2 linked regions of the Homo sapiens genome follow. The protein of the gene in region 1 interacts with the protein of each later gene in a biochemical or structural test. Each region holds a gene or a part of one and is shown on either strand. Other genes may lie near its edges.

Region 1 (7,987 bases):
CTGACTGCACAGCTACTCCTCTAAGGAAGTGATTTTCGATGTGTTGTCCCCAAGCCAGCAGCATCGGCATCACCAGGAAACTTGTTAGGAATGAACATTCTCAGGCCTCACCCCAGACTTAATGGACCAGAAATCCAACGGTGGGGGCTCATCAACGGGTGTTGACCAAGCCTTCCAAGGGACTCTGATGCTCAAGTTTAGGACCACTGCCCTAAGACATCAAGGCTTTCCTGTCACAGGACCTTTCTATCTGGTGTTGCCTCTACCTCCCCTACTCTTCCTTCATTCCCTCACTCTATCATATTTCTGCTAAAATGCCACCTCCTGTGGGAGGCCCTGCCTGACCACTCTTTAATAAAATAGCAAACCTATCTCACCTCAGCACTCTTTCCCACTTTACCTTTCATTTGTTTCTTTTTTATTGTACTTTTCACCATTTGTCACACTTTACAGTTATTTGTTTATTTGTATGTCTCCTTCTTCCCCCAATCAAGAGAGTCATCTCCTTAAGGACTTGTTTTATTCTCTACTGTATCCCAGCATCTAGAAAAATGCTTAAGACACATTAGGCATTTAATAAGTGTATACTACATGAACAAATTGGGTAATGAATAGATTGAGGCTTGCTCTCACTGGATGTACACTTCTTTGGGAGGTTCTCCCTGCCCCCCATGACTCCATCCATTCTGACTGACCACTGGGGCCAAAGTCTGAGTGGGCTTGTTCACTTCACTCTGAAAGAGCTCCCTCAATCCCATTATAATCCAGGCCAGGTGTCAGGAAATACAGATTTTTGCTCAGGACAAACCTCAATGTAAGAATAGATGGACCAGAACAAAGTCCCTCTGTTTAAAAGATGATTCAAATCTGGGTCCTACTGACAGTGGGACAGTGATGTCATTACTGTTTGTGGTTAATCGTACTGCTACCATAAGAATAGGTCAGGGTTAAAGAGGTTAAGCAATCTAGGAAATGTGTGCATGAGGAAGGGAATGATACAGGGATAGCCCTAGTTAGTCACTGGCAAGTGAAATCATGATGCCTGCTAATACCTAACACCTCCTTGGTGTCCTATGCATAAACGGAGCTGGTTCCTGAATGAGCCACAGGCTTTGCCAAATGAGGTCTCTGTTGGCTCGTGAGACTGTGGTAATTAATCTCTGCCTTGGCTTCCCAGCCTGTAAATCAGGGCTGTCCTCAGAATGAAGTACAATCCAGTGATTCTGTCTGAAGTTGTTGCATTTTACAGAAAATGTTTCATGTCACATGAGAGTTATGATAAGTGATGCTCTTTTAATGCTTGAGAAATTTTCCTACAAAGATCTTCCCTTTTAAGAGTCTTGCTTACTGAAACAGGATGAGGCAAGGATTAAGCAATAACAGCAGTAGGAGAGTATATTCTGCTAAGCACCTGAGAACAGATGTTTGGAGATACGGTTTAGAATGGATCTATCCATATTCCCCTGGTCTTCCTCATGATGTGGGCAGCACCTTGAGCTTGGTTTTGGAGGGTATCATCGTTTTTTCATGGGAAAGAGCAAAACACACTCATTTACTTTGGGACAAGAGGCAGAATGGTACACTGGTAGAAAGAGCCCTGGATGGAAAGGCAGGAGTTTTGATGCTCACTTGGCCACTTGATTACATAGTACATCACTTCATGTCTCTGGACTCTATTTCTTTCTCCATTTCTCTCAATAGTCTTTCTTTCTTTTTCTTTCTTTCTTTCTTTCTCTTTCTTTCTTTCTTTCTTTCTTTCTTTCTTTCTTTCTTTCTTTCTCTCTCTCTTTCTTTCTTTCTTACTTTCTACCTTTCCTTCCTTCCTTCCTTCCTTCCTTCCTTCCTTCCTTCCTTCCTTCCTTCCTTCCTTCTTTCCTTCCTTCCTTCCTTCCTTCCTTCCTTTTTTCTTCCTCTTTCTTTTTTTGTGAGACAGAGTCTGGCTCTGTCACCCAGGCTGGAGTGCAGTGGCATGATCTTGGCTCACTGTAACCTCTGCGTCCTGGGTTCAAGCAATTCTCCTGCCTCAGCCTCCCGAGTACCTGGGACTACAGGTGCACGCCACCATGCCCAGCTAATTTTTGTACTTTTAGTAGAGACAGGGTTTTACCATGTTGGCCAGGCTGGTCTTGAACTCCTGACCCCAGGTGATTCATCCACCTTGGCCTCCCAAAGTGCTGGGATTACAGGCATGAGCCACAACGCCCAGCCATTTTCTAAATAGTTTTCATCCTCCTTATCAGTGCTGCATCGAATCCCTTTTTTATAATCAGTGATCAGTAAAATCCCTTCTAACTTATGTCTTACTTCTAAGATTCTTAGACAAGATTTCTTGTCCCAAAATTGAAAACAGAGGCTATGACAATATGTGATACTCATCGGCCATTCACATTTGCTTAACTGGAATTTTTGCATTGTTTCAAAAAGTTTTGCCACATAAAGATTAATATTCAAAGATTTATAATGGCAAATACTAATTTTATTACGAAAGATGCCTTTTAATAATGTTCACTCAAATATTCTTTTTTTAAAAAAAATTCCACTTCCAGCTGCAGGCTTGGACCTCTTTCAAGGGGACATCCTCTTGCAGGTGAGTACCTGTCAATGATGCAATAAGTTTCTCAGGACAGGCAGTACCACTGGGTGTGAGTCTCTGCTCTGCGGCCAGCCCTGGGATGGGCACTGTGAAGGAGATGAGAGAAATCTCATCTATAATCTGTTCCAGTGAGGAGTTCCACTGTAGTTCCTAAGGACAAAAACAGAGGGAAAATAAGTAAACAGCACAAAAGGGTCTAAAATGATTAAATGGCTTATCTATCCAGTTTTCTTGGGATTGCAGGCCCCCTTTATTTTGTTCTTAATAATTTCTCTGATTTTTCCAAATTATCTCTCAAGGACTTCTATTGCTTTCATAATCAAAAGACAAATTGCCACTAAACTGTTTGAGTTGTGTGATAGACTGTTTGCTCTGTGAGAGTTTAGTGAAGGAGGAGGTCAAGGTGACCTTGAGGACTAGGCTTCCCACTCACCTTTACCTTTGTTTTCACAGAAATCCAGAAATGGCCTGAGAGACCCAAACACCAGGTGGACGTTCCCCATTCCTTACATCTTGGCTGATAATTTGGGTAATATTAATTGTTCTTAATTAGGAAGTTTCAGTTTAACTCTCTCTCTCCTCTCAGCCTGTCCATGGGCTTCACATTGGGAGTAACCACCACGATCTAAGAGAGTTTTCAAGTCCTGATGCATCTTTATCTAATGGGGAGAAAGACATAACATTACATCAAAAGCATTGCTGCTTAACCAGTCTGAGATACACAGAATCCAAGAATAACTTTTAAAATGCAACACACATTAAAGTATTAGTATAACCAGGAGAACATAAAAGAGCAAAACCTAATGAAATATAATTTGCATCAGAACAAGGAAAAGTTTGCACTTTGTTTAGGTGAATCTAAATGTAGTGTGAGGATACTATTTTCAGCATATTGATTTCTTCTCTTTTTCTTACAAGAGAAACATGCCACACTTTGAGAAATAGGAAAGTCCATATTTCACATGTTCACAATCCTTTTTTCTTGGTGTTATTAATGTCTACTCTTTTCTCTCTCTTAAGAAAAAGATCTGAATATGTTACATTTTACTCATTGTTAGAAATAATGACTAGTAGAATGACTTCCCTGCCTTTTAGCTAAGGTTGCATATAGAACTAGCAACTGGTAGAAATAAGTAAATATTAGAAGCCACATGTAGGCACTGGCTGACCCTCAAGCAGTTGACTGACAGCTGAGCAGCCATGATGACTCAATGTCTGCAAGGCCCCTCCTGCTTAGACAGATGAACAAGATTAGAGTGAAGAAGGGAAGCCAGGACAGGGTTGCTTAGTCTTGTTGGGCTGCTAGGCTGCTCCTACTCTCAGGAGATGTAGATTATGTTTCAGTATTTTCCATCCTCTTTATCAGTGCTGCCTCGAATCCCTGTTTATGGAGAACAGCTAGATATAAACAAATGTTATTGTTCACAGCTATTAGTTGGAAAATTGAGTTGTTTTCTCCAGTGTTTGCCTTGCAAATTCACGGAACATCAATACTTAATGGAACATGATTTAAGAAACACCAACTTTAAAAGGGGTTCTTTCCCATTACAATTTGTTTTATCCTGGTTGTCACATCTGCACCACCCTATTATGTGCCAGGCTCTGTGCCTTCATCTGATATTTTATGTAACCTTTACCATGCCTCTGTAAGGTGTAAGGTAGTGCTTCTCAGACTTTAATGTGCATAGGACTCAGATGAGGATCCTGTTAACCTACAGAGTAGGTCAGCGTTGGTGTGTGAGATGTTGCATGTCCAACGGTCCTCTAGTGATGCTGATGCTATTGGTCCCCACGCAGACCACAGCTTAAGTAGTAAGGTCTCTCTAGTTGCAAGATAGGTAAGAAATTATATTTGAGAGTGATTTGAGACAAGTGAACTGACATAAGATAAAGGTATTAAGGATACAGCAGTATTTCTCAAGCAATACCACGTGAAGGTCACCTTTAGTGTTAAAGTTCAGATGCCCAGACCCAGACCACTGTGAAAGCAAACTTTCTAACTAGAGTTGAATATTTGTATAGAATTGTTTTATTCAAGTTAAATTTACATAGAGTGAAATACACAAATCAGTATATAAGGCTTTTGACAAACACATATACCTATATAATGCACACTTCCATCATTCCATAAAGTTCCTTTCTAGGCAGTTCCCATCCCCACTCCTTAAGAGACAACCACCATTCTGATTTTCCCCTATGTATTAGTTTTGCCTGATTTACAACTGATTTACAGATAAATGAACTCATATACCATAGTATTTGTTTTATAAATACTATGTGTCTGGCTTCTTTGACTTATGTTTTTTAAGTTCTTCCATATTGTTGTAGATCAACAGTAAATTCTTTTTTTAAACTACTCAGTAATATTTCTTTGTAATACTATACTGTAAATTACTGTCCATTTTTCTGTTGGGGCTAGTATGAAGAAAACTGTTATGATAATTCTTATACAAGTTTATGTGAATACATTTTTTATTTATCTTTGGTAAATGCCTAGGAATATAATTGCTTGGTCATATGGATAACTATGTAAGAAAACGCCAAACAGTTTTCCAAAGTGGCTGTGCCATTGTACACTCCTCCTGAAAATATATGAGTGTTTCATTTGCTCCACATCCTCGCTAATATTGATAGCATTAATCTTTGTAGTTATAGCCATTTTAGTAGTTGTAAAATGGTATCTCCCTACGATTTTAATTTGCATTTCCCTAATGATTAGTGATATTTAGCACATTTTAGTATGCTACTGGCTATTTTTGTATCTTCTTTTACGAGGGTCTGTCCAACTCCTTCATGAGTTTTAAAAATTATATTGTTTGTCTTTTTATTATTTGTAGGATTTTATATATTATGGCTAAAGCCCTTTTTCAGATATATGTATTATAAATATTTTCTGTTAGTCTGTTACTTACCTATTTGTTTTTGTTTTTCAAGCAGTGAATTTTGAAATGCAAAAGCTTTAAATGCTGATAAAGTGTGATTTATCAATTTTTTAACTTATGGTTTGTGTTTTTATATTCTAAGAAATATGTGCTTAAACCAAGTCACAAAGATATATTCCAATATTTTTTGAAGTTGTATGGTTTCAATTTTTGTCTATAATTGATTGCAAACTAATTTTGTGTACAACAGGATGAAGAGATTGAGACTGATTGGTTGGTATTTATTAGCCCAGTTGTTCCAGCAACATTTGCTATAAAATTTTGCTTTCCTCATTAAGTACTCTTCGCAAGAGTCTCGTTTGCCAAGTTTGCCAAGACTCCTCATTTCTTGATCTGGTATCTCTGTTTTCCTATCTTATTCTACTTGTTTATCATCATGTCAAAAATCACTATGTTGATTACTCTAGCTTCACAGTTAACCTTGAATTGAGTGTTCCAGCTTTGCTCTCCAATTTCAAGACTGTTTAGCCTACTCCAGACCTTTTGCATTTTCATGTATATTTTACAATCAATTTCTCTAAAAAGCCTGCTGGGATTTTGATAGGAATGTGTTGATTCTGTACATAAATTTGTAGAAAACTAATTTCTTAAAAATATTGAGTCCTATAATCCATAAACATGGTACATCAGTCCATTTATTTCAGTCTTCTTTAATTTATCTAATCCGTGTTTTATAAATTTCAGTGTAGAGACCTTGTGTGTCTTTGGTAAATTCATTTCTAAGCATTTTATATTTTTGATGCTATTAAAATGAAATTTAAAAAATTTTACTACATAATGTTTTCTGCTAATATATAAAAATACAATGGATTTTTATATATTGATTTTGTATTCTGTTACCTTGCTAAATTTACTCATTAATTTTAATTGTTGATTTGTAGATTTTTTTAGGACTTTTAGTAAAAATTCTTCTTGCCTTTTAATATAGACAGTGTTACTGGTTCCTTTCCAATTTTTACACCATATATTGCTTTTTCTTGTCTTATTGTTCTGGCTAGGACCTTCATTACCATGTTGAATAGAAGTGGTAAGAGTGGACATCTTTGCCTCATTGGCTTGTTTAGTGGTAGTATTCAATACTTCATTCATGTGGGACACTGTAGGTTTTCCACAGATGCCCTTTGTCAGATGGTATGTTTTCATCATGAATAGTTGTTACAGTGTATCAAATGCTTTTCCTGCAACAATTAAGTATAATTTTTATTCCTTATTGTGTAATATGGTAATAACATCAAATTTGAATGCTAAATCAACTTTGCATTTCTCAGATGAGCCCTACTTGGTTATGATGTATTATCCTTTTCATATTTTGCTGGATTCCTAATATTTTGTTATACATTTTTGTGTTTATATTCATAAATAGTATAAGTTTCTAATTTACCTTTTTGTAATATCTTTATTAGGCTTTAGTAATAAAGTTATGTAGCTCTCAAAACCATCTTGAAAATTTTTCCTCTTCTTTTATCTTTTGAATAAGTTTGTGTATGATCAAAATTTTTTCTTTCTTAAATGTTGGTAAAAATCACCAATAAAATAAATAATAAATTTGTTTGTTGGTAAAATTCACCGATAAAATAAAATAACCAAGTAATGGAATTTTCTTTGTGGGATAGTATTTTTATAATGAATTCGATTCATTTAATAATTATAGAATTATTCTTATTTTCTATTATGCTGCTTTTATTAAATTGTATTTTTCAGTAATAAAAAATTAAGATTATCTTAATAGATGCAGAAAAAGCATTTGACAAAATTCAACAACTATTTCAACTAAGTTGTCAAAATAGTGGCATAATATCTCATTATCTTTATAATGTCTGTAGAATCTTTAGTGATAGTCCTATTTCACTTTTGATATTGGCAATTTGTGTTTTCCCTCTTTTTTTCTTGACATGTCCTGCCAGGGACTTATTGATTTTATTAATATTTTTACAGAATTGACTTTTGATTTGTTAATTTTCTCTTGCTTCTCTGCTTTATATTTAGTTGCTTTCTGTTACCTTTATTATTTCCTTTCTCCTACTTATTTCAGGTTTAGTTTACTCTTCTTTTTTGACATTCTTAAGATGAAAATTCATATCACTTATTTTAAACCTTCATTTTTTCTAATGTAATATATTCTACAACATGGCTACTAAAGCTATAAATTTTATCTGAAGCACTGCTTTACTGCCTTCTTCAAATTTTGATATGGTGTATGCTTATTAAAATTTAGTTTATTAATAGATACTTCATAATTTATCTTGTGAATATTTTCATCCATGGATGGGATAAAAGTATGTTTACATTTTTAAAAATATTGTCCTTAGCGTTAATATTATGCAAGCATTTTACAATAGTATAATTCCATTTATACCCCTGCCCTTTGTACTTTATTGGTTTATATTTTCCATCTACATGCTTCATAAGTCTCGCACTATAGTGTTAGAATTTTTTATTTAAACAGTTATCT
Region 2 (8,655 bases), on another chromosome or scaffold:
TTAAATCCAGACATACAATGAAGAGTACAGTTTAGTAATTCCTAAATACATTGTAGAACGGTAAATGTCTAGAAGATTACGAACTGCAATCCCTGCATTTAAAAACAAGGAAACACAGGTAAGCAAGGTGAACTAATCCACTTGCTAAAGATAAAATATTTAATAAGTCACTGTTTCAGGATTAGATCTCAATGCTCCTGCTTACCAGTCCATTGCTATCCCCTCTATACTACATTTCTTTTGCAGGTTGTCATGAACTTTTATTTCTAATTTAGGAACACCTTTTTATTTCCCCCAATATAATAAAAAAGGCAAAGAGCTCACTTTGTTTTCATTTAACTTGAGACCAATATACCTTTCATCATACCCAATGTAAAAGGCATGGAAGCAAGTTCCTTTAAAAACATTTACAGGCAAGTAAATATGTGTGGCAATTAATTAAAATTGCAACATGCTGATTGATAGAATTATAATTTCTTTGCCTGTCATATCAACACCTTTAACTTCTTTTAACTAAAAGAAATTTTTTTTTTCAAAAAGGAAATGCCTCTCAAGGAACTTTTCAATCTTGATGAGAAGTTATTACTATGGGAAAAGGATACCATGTTTATAATGAAAGTTCATATGTTCTTCAACTCAGGGTTAAAGAAAAGAAAAAGTTACCTTTGATGTATGCATATTGGTCAAGAAATCTGCTTCTAATGCTTTCATTTCCTCTTCTGAATCTGAGTAAAATCAAAATCAGGTTTACTATAATTACATATCATATAATTATATCATAATCTACAGATTTTAGGTTAATCTAAAAAAAAATCTTAGAGGTTAGTGTCTTTCTTATGTATTTTCTTAAAAATAGTAATCCTAAAAAACAAATTATAGTTATACTTTAGCATAATAGGAAGCTAAAATAGTAGAAGCACTTCTAAGAAAATAAGCATATGATTATTTTTCAGACAGCTATTGATCACTGGGAGTTGTTTAATCTTTGAATTTCAGGCTTTAAAAATGTGATTACATTGTATAACACATATTTTACCAAATATGCTAGAGTAGCTTATTTCTTACCAGCCACAGTTTACATATATAGAAAATATGCATATTAACATTTAAAAACACAACATAATGAAGACTATACAAGAGACTTTTTCAAGACAAAACCAAAGGGAATTGCTTACTGATAATTTTAGAATAATAAAGATACTGAGGTTTACTTAACTTGAGATGTTTTTTACAAAACACACGTTGAAAGAATTGTATTGTACTTTAAGAGAATTCAAAATTATGTATCCTCAATTTTTTCATAGGCATTTAAGGAAATTGTTTAAAGCAAAAGTGGAGCTGTTCAACAACACATGTACAACAGCATTGAAAATGGATCTCTGGATTTTTAAAAAACTCTATCCAAGTTTCTGTTAATGAATATTTTACAGAGAAGGAAAATTTGGAAAATACTATACAATAATAAAAATAAAGTTAAAAATGACTCTATCTTCCTTGTACTACACACTCAGTAAAAAGAAATGCCACAATTGGAGAACCCATTGGCTTAATTTTACCTAGAACCTAAATTATACAAGAGATCTTTTCTCACTATTTGTTAGAGACATAATCTGTTTTAGGAATTTATGAACAATGTATACCAAAATCCTTATAACTATTGCATTATTACAACAAGTAGTTTCAAGTTAATAAACACAGTGCTTAATCAATAACCCAGTTTTTCTTCCAGAAGTATGTGAATCTTTAATCTCATATAACTTTCAGATAAAATCATAATTATAGAAAAGTTTGTTTTTTCTCATAAGATTTAAAAAGTAGAAGCTGAAAGTTATGTTCTGATGATTAAAATAAATTTAAAATTTTGTATAAATCACATTTATATCTTCTTAGATTTTAATTTCATAATTTAAATCAAATGATAGCATGAGTTTGAGTTAAACATTTCCATGTCATATTTATGATACATAAAAGCACAGAACAGGTTAAATTATTTTTGCTGCATTTGCTTCCTAATGTGTTCTTTTCCCTTTGAAGTGTTCATTGTAATATTTCTTAAATATTAAGTAGAGCCTTTTGCAATGGTTGTAATATTTCATGTTATACCTTTCAATTTAAGTCTTATTTTCAAAGTGAGTTATTCGTAGATACTTAGGACTATATAACTTCTTTCAAACCACATGCAAAACACTCTAAAGTCAAATAATTTCCATCAATATAAGAATACCAATTTTCCAATTGTATTTTGTATTAACTTAAATGGCATGGAAAAAATGCCAAACAGTTATATTAATAGCACACTTATTAGACTATGCAAATTCTGTTCTCAAAAAGGATCTGGAATATTTTTGTATTTTTCTAGAAATAATTTTCTACAAATAATGCTTCATTTTTCACTAAGTATCAATTTTCACTTTATTTGTTATCTTAACACAAACAAGAAAATAATACGGGGACTATTACAAGGGCGTGAGGGCCACCGCTTCCTAAGAGAATGAATGAGGATGAGAGTAAAACATTTTGAATGGAATGGGATTTAATGATGGGTTTGCAGGTTGACAGCCACTGCCTCTGTATTTCTCATTAGATAATGATCAGCCTAATTGAAAGTTTTGTAGGGTTTTTTTCCCTCTAGTTGTTGAATTCCAAAGGAGGTCGTGCAGTGTTTCATTGAAATCCCTTTTATTGCTTTGCAGATTTTAAAAGAGAAAATACATCTCTCAGTAATCATAAAGGCAGAGAAAGAGATACTCAGTTTCTGTCACTAAAAGGTAAATCCTGAATAAAAGGGAGCAACTCTTCTCCCCAGATACATTAACATAAGTAGCAACACACTGCAAAAGAGAAAAAAGAAATCACTTCAGGGAGTTGTGAAATTCTGTTTTGCTTACCTGAGCACAGACTCCAGGAGCTGAAAGCCAGGAGTAGCATGCATACAAGCTGGATTTTCATTCCTGCCATCATCTTTCAGCCTTCTAACAAGCCAAGTCCGTAAAAGTCAGAAGCACACTGAAGGGGGCTCTCTCTAGCACTTCCTCTTTCCTTCAGCTGGCTTTGAAAGTGAGTGAACTATGAGAGGTGCTCTGGCCATTCCCCTATATATATAAGCAGGAGGATGATGTCATTGATTGTACAGACATTATCTTTGCAGGATGTGCCCTATCTTCACCTCCATCCCTCCCCTCTTTGCCCTGCTTTCTCCTCCCCTTTTCCTTTGTCCCCCCTGCTCTCCTCCCCCATTTCTGAACCTTGAGTGAAAGTGACGATCTTCCCTAATTGCTGCTGCTGCTGCTTTGGATTTCTGACGCACAGAAGGAGTCATTCAACTGCACTGACATACAGCATACATACAGCATACTGACAAAGAACCCCCAGTATCATCCTTTTCCCACTTCTCATTCCCCCACTCCAAAAGTTGTCATTTTGATTTTGTGAAACATGAGATCTGTTATTTCTAATTTTTAAGGAAAATCTCCAGGATGAATGCATGAAATCAGTGATTCCTTAGGCTTGGAAGTTCTTGAAGAGTTAGGGTGCTTCTCTGGTAATTCAAACTTCTGAGCAAATGTTTAGTGGTTCCAAAACTAATACAGGTTTTAAATAATCCATGCTGGAATAAGATGGAATAGAGACAGAGAATCAGTTATAAAAATTAAGCAATTAAGTTTAGAGAATAGAAAGAAAATCAATAAAAAGAAATAATAGATCCAGGGAATAAGATATTATTTCCTAACAAATAGAAAATATTTTATTGTAAGTAATGAGAGATGACTGAACTATGTGTGCTGACTTTTGGTTGAATGTATTAGAAAAACAATTTCATGTTTATAAAATCCAGCTCTAAATTACTTACATTCTAGCAGGTAAAAATTTGTGTTGTTGTATCACTGACTTTTTTTCTGTACATTATCTCTTTTTATGCCTATATTTTTCTGCTCTTTTTGAATTCATTCTTGATGCCATGTCTCACTCTTTGTATAATTCCCTTCTCAACAGTTTTTACTATTGCATCGGCTTTCTTTCCCTGTTATAATACTCTTTTCACCATAAAAAAAGAGATTGTACTTTTGGAAAGGAGACAATCCTAAATAACCACCATTCACCAAAGTCACTTTTCTATGATAGTCTTCATGTATTTCATGAGTTACACTGATACCCATTCTTTGTCTGAGTTCTCAAAAGAAAATTGTTCAAAATGCCTTTTAGAGTAAAACTTTCTTCTTGTAGTAAGCATTTCAAGATACATGGGGTAATTTGACAAGTCAGTGCTGTTAGAGATGTGAATATTTGAATGTAAAGTTGTCTGAGTCTTGTTTAATTTTTAAATAAATCAATCATGTAGTAACAGTTGAGAAAAAATAGGATTGGTTCCTATAGATAATTGATTTATATTATACAATCTATGAGTTTAACTTTTTCACCTTTACCCAAAACTTAAGCAAAGCGATTAAATCCAAACATTTAATAATTACTTAGAATAGCAAGGAGTCTTTCATATAATACCAGAAATTTAATAATAACTGATATATTTATTACTTTTAGTTTGTTTTCTGAACTTACATAAAACACAATATTGAACATACTCACATGGAGGAAGGTTTCTGTAAAGTATTTAGTTGACAAATGTGAAATACATACGTCTAGATGTTTTCTGCTTTCCTACCATTAGGGGGAGCAATGGAAGCTTGAAACACTTGGTTTTCACTTAACAGAGTCTCAGTGAGGATTTGTGCTTACTTTCCTGTTACTATCAGAGCATCTTTGTGACAGAATCCTCTTAAAGCCACTTTGATTAACAAATCGGGAAAATTATATATACTTTGCATGATAATTAAATTAGTTGTTTTCTCTGCTTTTGAATTGCAAATACAAAGAATGATCTTTTAAAATGTGTGATAGCAGTCTAATAGTAAAAAGGAAATGTGATTCTTATTTTCCTCAGATGATTTCTTCAATATGTTGACAAAATTGATCCCTAATTAATTAGAAAAAAGGGGGAGAAGAATTAATGGAAATTCATTTTAAATATATAACATGGATATTAGTTGTTAATGTGAAAATTGAGATATGTGATAAATATTCAAGAATAGGGGAAACATTAAGTTATGTCAAATAATTCAAATTCAAATAGATGCTATATGCTACTTTTCTTTTGGGGAAAAAAGATGTATAACTTTGGTAAAATTATGATGTAGATAAACTTTGACCTCTAATTGGTATTTTCTTTAATGTGTTAGGCTTTTTGTTTCTTGCTCTAATCTAATGCCTTCAAGCTACACATAAACCAATAAAACAATTTGTTGTAGGGATAAAGGTTAAGTATGTATTTTTCCACTTAAAAAGTACCCTACGAACTTCCTAAATGATGCCTTTAATGCAGGATTGTAGACACCTTGCTATGGAGATGGGTGAACTGTTTTTATTTTAAAGGCTTTTTACCCCAGATCCTTTTTCTTTTTTCTTTTTTTTTTTTTTTGAGATGGAGCTTCTCTCTGTCACCAGGCTGGAGTGCAGTGGTGTGATCTCGGCTCACTGCAGTCTCCACCTCCTGGGTTCAAGCAACTCTCCTGCCTCAGCCCCCCGAGTAGCTGGGACTACAGGCACACCACCAGGCCCAGCTAATTCTTGTATTTTTAGTAGAGACGGGGTTTCACCATGTTGGCCAGGATGGTCTCGATCTCTTGACCTCATGATCCGCCCACCTCGGCCTCCCAAAGTGCTGGGATTACAGGCGTGAGCCACCATGCCCGGCATACCTTAGATCCTTCTAAGGGTTACCTAGTTCTTAAAATATCTGATAAAGATTTTAAGCATTGTCCTTTAATAATATTCCTGTGTTGGCCTTCTTAAGTGGATGTTACCTGTTAGGTACCTGTTGATTACAACATCTCTAAAGTAGGTAGATTTCTAAGCTTGTACTGTTACTTATGTCAGACCTTTATTAGGTAATTGCTGAAAATAATCAACAGAGACACCTGAAGAATTGGCAGTTAGAAAGAGTGGTCTGTAAGCTTATTTTGTTTGGAGAAGGGCAAGCTCTGGAACCAACTGATCAAGGGTTGGTTTTTCAGTTCCTTATGGTTTTTTCCTATAGCTCTGGTGACTTTAATACCTCATTAACAGCTTCCAGGATTTTCCAATCTTTTGGTAACCTAAATACCTGAAACTTGGCCTGTTGTGTTTTTACAACCTGGAATCTCCCCTTCACCTTCCTATGATCATCCTGTATTTTATGGCTTAATCAACAAAAACATTTCCAAGTTTGAGTCCTGAAAGTAGTCTCGTCTACTTCTATTTTTCCTAGTTTTCTGTTAAATGCTCCGTAGTTTGTTTATACAGTTTATGGTAAACTGTAAACTGCTAGAAGGAGAACATTCTGACTTCTAAGGTTTATAATCCATAAGTGATCAATACATACTTACTAAATTAAATGAAAATACTGATTACGTTTAATTTCTTACATGCCCTTTCCATGTTTTAATTTTAAATGTTTCTTTCAGCCACACCTTTTAACACTCTTTTGTTATCATTAATCTTCATATTTTATGTGAGCTTTTATAGTCAGTTTTCTCAGCCTTTTCTCTCATCATCCTTTTCCTCTCTGACTGGAAATGTTAACTTTAAAAAAATCATTCAAGAAGATTGTCCTTGGATCATGTACAATCATCAGCTGAATGTTTAGATAAATTGTGAGTTTGCTCCATTTCTATAAATGAGTCTATCATTTGAAGCTGTAACTCTGATTCATCTGAACAAATAATGATGTCAAAGTCTGTGAACCCAATTGATTTTTCTGTTCAATTAAAGTATATTTTCTAGAAATACAGATGGATGTGTGCATGCATACACCCACATAGGATGTGTATAACCCAACCTTGGAGATTTAGGTAAATGTAAACAAACGTTCAGTTTCCCAATCTGCATGTAACCTTGCTTTGCCCATAATCCTTACAAATTCCTAGCTCATTTCCTTTCAGCTCTTCCTATCTCTGTTATTGCATCCATATAGGTAATTAACCTGGAAAAATTGATGACTGACTTCTGTAGTCAAAGCATATTTTGCAACTTAAACCGTAATTACAAAATACGGTTTGCTTGGGACTTACATGTTAATGAGTTACTGTATTTAACTAACCATGCTCCACATTGCAGCCATTGCTGACTTCACCTATAATCTTGCTTCTCGTGTCTAGGAAAAAATGTAAATACTCACAAAATCACCACCCATTATGTGTAATGCTCAGGTAGTTTTCCTTATAGGTCTCCCTTTTGAATAAGACCAAAATAAAAGTATTACAGAAAAAAATGTTCCTGACAAATTTCTTCTTTCATGTTTCTTAGTTTTATAAATTAGTGTAATTATCTAATGTAATAAATGAGACAAATTCTTATTATAAGAAAACTTTCTCTTTTCTTTTTTAATATTACAAAGTCTAAGAAAATTTCCATAGCACCTGCAATACCTGAAACAGAGCAGATGTACTTGAGCTACCGTCTATCAGGAGCAAATTCAGTGAAACACTTTTTTTCTTTTTCTCAAGAAGATATTACATGTTAAATTTGGAATGTAATGGTTTTATATTATTCATACTCCTTGGGTTTATGATTCTTTTTAAATTTACTGTGCTTTCCCAGTGAATCTGATAAGTCTTATGGTTTTGAATCCTATCTATTTCCTAATAACCTCCAAGTTTGTATCTCTGACTACTCAAATTGTATATGCAATCACCTCATTAGCAGCCCTACTTGGAGTTTCATTAGGCAGACTTATTGTCTAAAGTAAAACTTTTGATTCCTCCAAACATCTTTCTAATAATCTTCTGCCCCTCTAGAGTTTTTCATTTCAATTATTAGAACCATGATTTACTGAGTTGCACAGATCTAAAAACTAGAATCCATTTACATTGTTTCTCTCTCCCCTCCACTTCCAAGCTAGCAAAACCCCCTGGGGTGCAGGTCTGTTCCAAAATATATTTCAAATCTAACTACTTTTCCTTATGTCATTTTTGCCACCTAAGTCCAAGCCACCACCATCTTTCTCCTGCGCTGCCATAATAACCATTTGAGTAGTCTCCCTACAACCTTGATCCCTTTCAGCTTTCAAAAACTCCAGAAAAGTTTTTAAAAATGTAAATCTATTCCTGTCATTCTCTGCTTAAAACATTCTAAAGGTTTCCTCTTGTCATGCCTGATGATGGCCTATGCTACCTGAGTGGGTTTTGTCTTCCTCTCTATCATCATATTCCACCATTCTCCCCTTCTGTTCCTATGTTTCAAGCACATTGGTCTTCTGGCTTTTGTGCAACATGCTAAGCTTTTTTGTTAAAGATCTGCAATGAAAACTGTGATTACTGTTCATCAAATATTCATTCCCTTACTCCTCCCAGAGTGGATGAAATATACTTCCTCACTCTTTGACTTTAACTTAGGAAATGAGACTTGCTTTGGCCAGTGGGATGTTAGTAGACATAAGAAAAAGACAGACTTGATTTGTGCTTGACACATAGGGCTTTCCCTTTCTCTCTTCTGCCATTGCCATGAGAAACTCTTTTCTTTTCTCAGATGATCCCAAAATGAGGAGGGACATATGGAGCAAAGCTGCCCCAGCTGACTTGCACACCTGCAATGTAAGGGAGAGATTCCCGAGCTTAAAGCAGG

The links. Proteins that work in one complex are often made in the same cells at the same time.
Region 2: of the proteins of MEP1A (region 1) and NTS, one has a biochemical effect on the other in vitro, tested with the Homo sapiens proteins (one study listed by BioGRID).

What each region holds. Positions count from the first base shown.
Region 1 is NC_000006.12:46,796,060-46,804,046, forward strand, and holds part of MEP1A (meprin A subunit alpha precursor), read left to right. Parts: intron 1-2,546; coding exon 2,547-2,587; intron 2,588-3,046; coding exon 3,047-3,122; intron 3,123-7,987.
Region 2 is NC_000012.12:85,868,710-85,877,364, reverse strand, and holds the start of NTS (neurotensin/neuromedin N preproprotein), read right to left. Parts: upstream 3,071-8,655; 5' UTR 2,962-3,070; coding exon 2,889-2,961; intron 726-2,888; coding exon 664-725; intron 1-663. UniProt on the Homo sapiens protein: Neurotensin may play an endocrine or paracrine role in the regulation of fat metabolism. It causes contraction of smooth muscle.